Regions from separate parts of the Homo sapiens genome. Here region 1 is linked to region 2. A link means that fine-mapping ties the variant in region 2 to the expression of a gene that starts in the linked region. Tissue or cell type: hippocampus. Region 2 holds a variant in brackets; the other region holds the start of a gene. All regions are shown on one strand. Distances are from middle to middle.

The links. PIP is the estimated chance that this variant, and not a neighbour inherited with it, causes the effect.
Region 1: PRSS56 starts here. The variant in region 2 is fine-mapped to the expression of PRSS56 in hippocampus (GTEx, PIP 0.99).

Annotation. Positions count from the first base shown.
Region 1 is chr2:232,519,145-232,521,759 of GRCh38, forward strand. PRSS56 (serine protease 56) reads left to right here and starts at 1,244. Exons shown (of 13, transcript NM_001195129.2): 1 at 1,244-1,551; 2 at 2,177-2,284. The coding sequence starts at 1,455.
Region 2 is chr2:233,021,730-233,024,488 of GRCh38, forward strand. No RefSeq gene overlaps it. Among named protein-coding and RNA genes, the nearest start is that of NEU2, 9.6 kb to the right of the region's middle. The variant C/T (reference allele first, on the strand shown) is at 1,170.

The sequences.
Region 1 (2,615 bases), 500 kb before region 2:
CACCTTCTCTGCTCCTGGGTCCCCTGCTTTGGTGGCTCTTACTGGGAACCGCAGGCGATCTTCCTTTGGACACTGTCTCTGTTTATGCTAAAATTCAAGCTGTGTTGAGCTAATGCCTTATCTACCAAGATTGTGGAGGTCATGGATAAAAAGATACCCTGCAAGATGGACAGATACTCTGGTGAATAGAGTCCTTTCCAACTTCACCAAATTCACTCACCAGAATCATCCGCAGACAGTATTTTCAGAGCATTCCTGAAGTAGAGGTATTGTCATGGCGAGGTGCGGTGGTAACTGGGGAAAGGGCTCCTTAGCATGGTGTGCTGGTCACTGTGGAACAGCTGGCTCTCCAGGGGGAAAGAGCCCCGGGTCATAGCATTTGCTGATAAATATTCCCACCAGTTCACCTCACATGAATTGGGGAGCCTGGGCAGCGCAGACGGGCACTATCCTACCCCAGGTGGTAACTCAGTCCCAGGAGAGCTGTGTGGCCCTGCCCATGAGACTCCAGAGGACTCCAGAAGAATCCCACTGCCAGATCAGGGTCACAGAACAATGCCGGACAGGCAGAGCGGGCACTGTGCAGGGCCAGGGGGTCTGGGAGAGCGTCAGAAGCTGCTAGGGCCTGTCCTCCCGGAACTGGGCCACTGTGGGCCTTTCATCTCCCGCCTCCCTTTCCGCGCCACTCCTGCGGCTGCCTGCCTCTGCCCCTTCCCACCCCACCACCCCCAGTGCGGCAATTACGGCGCTAATTAGGCTGCTTTGATCATCTTTAGAAATGGCCACATTGGGGAGGGACTCTGCCAAGCAATTAGGGGCAGAGGGGTGGGGAGCTCCAGGGCTTCCTCAGGGGGTGGGGCTGCTGAGAAACCCCAGACACCCCCTGCCCTCCTCCCTCCAGGAGTGTCTGCCCCGTCATAGCTGTAAGCTCCTCAGGGGGTAGAGGCAGATGGGGATCCCCCCCCATCCCAGCCCTGGAGCCAGGGCCCGCCCCCACCCAGCAGCCCCCCTCTGCCTGGCCTGCAGCCCAACCGTCAGCCCTTCTTCCCTGTCTTGGCCCCTTTGATGGAGCCGCAGAAACAAGGGCTCCTTTGACAGAAGGGGGGCTCGGAGCTGGGATGATGAGACTTCAGAGGTGAAGGTCAAGCCCACTACCCCACTCCTCCCCCAGTCTTGGCCACCCTCCCGTGCACCCCTCCCCCAGGCTGTCCTCTATAAAGACCCTGCAGCCCCATTCCCCTGTGGGCTCCTAGGAGTTAAGGGCCAGGTGAGGGCTGACCAGGGAGGCGGGTAATTTTGATGTAAGAGAACGGGGTCAGATGATTTGAGGGACAAGAATTCAGTGCCCGGGGGCCGAAAGGCAGCAGAAGGCGGGCACCAAAGGATAGGCACCCGGAAGGTGGACTCCGAGGAGGAGAGAGGACAGGGGTCTCTCACCCCAGCTCCTGGTCACCATGCTGCTGGCTGTGCTGCTGCTGCTACCCCTCCCAAGCTCATGGTTTGCCCACGGGCACCCACTGTACACACGCCTGCCCCCCAGCGCCCTGCAAGGTAAGTCCAGGCTGGCCCGAGAGCCGCGGGGTTGGGAGGAATGTAGAGGAAGTGGGACCCTGGGCGGGCGGGGACAGAAGAGCTTGTCACCCCCACTCATAAGGACCTTTGGCTCCTTCTGCCCACCCTGCTGCGAGAAGGGGCCAAGAACTGAGATATAGGTGGGAGAGGAGGGGTGTGGCGGGAAAGGGAAGGGGAGCTGTTGAGCATGCCGAAAGGAATGGAGAGAAGGCCCCAAGAAGCAGAGAGAAACGGCCCGGGGCAGCACCCTGCCCTTGGCTGTCCCGGCCGAAGGTGGGCCACTCAAACACAGCTACTTTCAGTCAATAAAGCTGAGTTCTGCGATGTCTGTATCTTTGGGGTGGTGTCTTTAAAAAAAATTGTTAAGGAAAAGCACCTTTCAAAGATCCCAGTCCAGCTCAGTTGAATTAGGGAGACATCTTGGGCTGAGAACCTGGGAGCACGGGCTCTGAGTGCTGGGCCCAGCGTCCCCGGGGCTCACTTGCCTCCTCATTCTGTCCCAGGCTGGTGGGTCTCCCGAGGCAGGGCTCAGGGCTGGGGCCAGGAGGATGAGGCTGAGGCTCTTCCCCAACCACGCATGATTGTGTGCCCCCTGTCCCAGCAGTTCTGTCGGCCCAGGGGACTCAGGCGTTGCAGGCAGCCCAGAGGAGCGCCCAGTGGGCAATAAACCGAGTGGCGATGGAGATCCAGCACAGATCGCACGAGTGCCGAGGTGCCCACCCTGCCCCCCGTGCCCCAGTGAGCTTGCTGCCTACCCTGGGCCCATTCTGCTGCCTCTGTCCCTTCCCTTCAGTCTTCACTCTCCTCTTGGGGGCAGAGACTGTGTTGGGCCGCAACCTAGACTACGTTTGTGAAGGTCTGTCTCTCCGAGTGGAAAGGACACGCTAGGCTTGGGGCATGGCCTGTGCAAAGGCAGGGAGGCGGAAACACTCTGGGCTCCTGTGGTGACCAGGAGAAGTTCATGGTTGCTGAAATAGAACCCGTGTGGGCTGGAGGGCTGAGCGCGAAAGGAGAGATGGGGAGAGAGAGGCTCGGCCCAGCCT
Region 2 (2,759 bases):
TGGTGGACACAGTTGGCTCTGAGCCATGGGAACCATTGGGAGCTGAACAGCCAACCACAGACCCCGTGAAAGGACTTCATCCAGTGGAGGGGAGGGGAACAAAGGACAGGGCCTCCCGCATCTGTGGCTCAAGACTAAGACAAAAAGCCTACCCTGAGCTAAATATGACCGCCTTTCCATCTTTCCAGCTTCTGCAGCCTCACCCACACTGTCTGGTGGTGACTTGCAGTGACGTGGTGGATATCTTCTGGCTGCATGCCAGCAAATGACCCGTCCTTCTGGGGATAAGCTCGTGGCCCAGGGAGCCTTGGGCATGGTTGTGGTGCATAGAGAAGAAAAGGATTCGCTGCCCGGTGCTAAATCTGATGGGTCCCTACCATGGGCCAGATGCTGGGTAGAGAGATTCACATATGCCCTGCCTGGAAAGGTAACATTCATCCTTTCACTAATGAGTGTTTATCAGGCCACAGTGATGTATCAGAAACTGTTCTAGATACTGGGTTGCAGTAGTAAACAAAGCATTCAGAATCTCTGCTCTCATGCAGCTTAGGATCTATTATGATTTTTTTTTTTTTTTTTTGAGATGGAGTCTCATTCTGTTGCCCAGGCTGGAGTGCAGTGGTGCGATCTCGGCTCACTGCAAGCTCCGTCTCCGGGGTTCAAGCGATTCTCCTGCCTCAGTCTCCTGAGTAGCTGGGACTACAGGCGCCCGCCACCACACTGGGCTTATTTTTTATATTTTTAGTAGAGATAGGGTTTCACCATATTGGCCAGGCTGGTCTCGAACTCCTGACCTCATGATCTGCCTTCCTCTGCCCCACAAAGTGCTGGGATTACAGGCGTGAGCCACTGCGCCAGGCCCTATTATGATATTTTTACCTTCATTTTTCAGAGGAGGAAACTGAGATCCCAAAAGGCCAGAAAAGTGGCCCCACTCACCCATGTAGTATGTGGCCAAACCAGAAGAGCAGCCAAGTCCTGCCTGGCTCCTCACCCCTGAGCTTTCCAGACTCTCCCGGGCCCTGGGAAGTCCATCCTGCTGAGCACACATTTTGCTCAGTGCATCCACTTGAAGAGCGACATTAACTGAAATGGCTCATGGCTCATCCTTTGATTCAGGCCTGCCTGCGTGGAGAGCTGGACAGACTTCCTCCTGACTAATGAGCCCT[C/T]GCATCCTAATTGGGCCAGGGCTGGGCCTACATGCTGCCATCGTTCCTGGAACGTGCTTGGTCAGATGAGTGGGAGGCAGATACTGGGGACTCCCTTAGGTGTATATAGGGCATGGACCTGATAGAGGAGGCGCTGAGACTTGAGGAGAGTCCAGGGCAATGCAGGAGTCACGGCGCTTCTAGAAGTTGGGCTCCCACCACTTCTGGACACACACCCCGACTTCACAACTGGGCCCTGATCTCGATCTGGCTTGAGACACTCCTGGAGGTACGGCTTATCTCTAAATTGACTCACACAGTTCCTTTGTTGATATAAACAAGAGTTGTTGTTCCTGCTGGATAATTCTGAAGCGGGGTGTGATGTTTGGAAATGCCTTGACAAGGGCCATTTTAAAGAGCATGACAGTCACGGCCCCTCCACACCCACTGGGATTGCACCCCGCTTGGTTCTTGGGCTGTCCAGCGGTCATGTTGGATGGGACCGTGTGCAGAAGGCTCAGTTCAGTAAGTTCAGCCAGCTCAGAAACACTCCCTGATTCTGTCCTAAAGTCACCGCTGGTTTGAATTCCCAAGAGGAGGCCCCACAGTCCTGGACCAGCTTGGGGTCAAAACCGCAGCTCTCAGTTTGGCCTGGGAATTCCCGCAAAGCATGGGGCCAAGCGGACTTGTGGAACCCACTGGAAATGGGTTTTTCTTGGGGAGAGAGGCTGACCATGCGTGGGGCTTGCTACCTCCAGGGTTGCTCTGCCAGTGCGGTGAGCTGACCGGAGGCAGAGCTGCCTGCTGTTGGGAGAGATGGCATTATTCTGATGTGGGAACCAGCAGGTCAAGTCCCACCCCAAACTCAGCCAAGAACAAAGGCTTTTCCTCTGGGAAAAGCCGCCCAGGCCACCACTTCCCCACTCCCCACAACTGTTGACTCCCTTTGGTTGTTGTGGAATCCCGGAGGCAGGGACCAGGGCTTCTCTATTTATCTGTTTCCCGCACTGGAAGGTGCTCCATACAGATCTGTGAAATGCCAAGCATCTCCCTGCAGCGGGCAAGGTGAATGCCAGCGGGGAGGCCCCAGGCGTTGCAAGGTGCTCACAAGGTTGTGTTCCCAACAAGACATGGAGAGAAGCCGGACAGGGGTCCCCCGATGTTGTCTTTTGTCAGGGACTTCACAGAATGTTCAGACATCAGAATCCCAGCTGTGAGGCTCATGGCAGGAAACCCCAGTGGTTGGGTTCTGGAATCTGGCAGATCCAGGCTCAGATCCACTCATCCACCACCAACTGGCTGTGCGCTCCTGGAGAAGCCTCTCTGACCCACTTCTCTGTTTCCCCGCATCTGTGATAGGATGTGAAGGGGCTGCGTGGGAGAAGTGAGATTTCACGTGTGAGACGCTTGGCTCTGGGTTTGGTACCGGCAAGGCCAGAGCAGCACCAGCCACTGGTAGCCTTAGTGGGATCCTATGAAATTGCTCCTGTTTGGCTATTTTAACCTACAAAATGGCAATTTCTCAGAATTCAACCTGATAGTGTCACCTCTGACATTGTCTGGCTACTCGAGTGTGAGGCTGGGTTTTGCTGAGACCCTTGTCCACCCCAC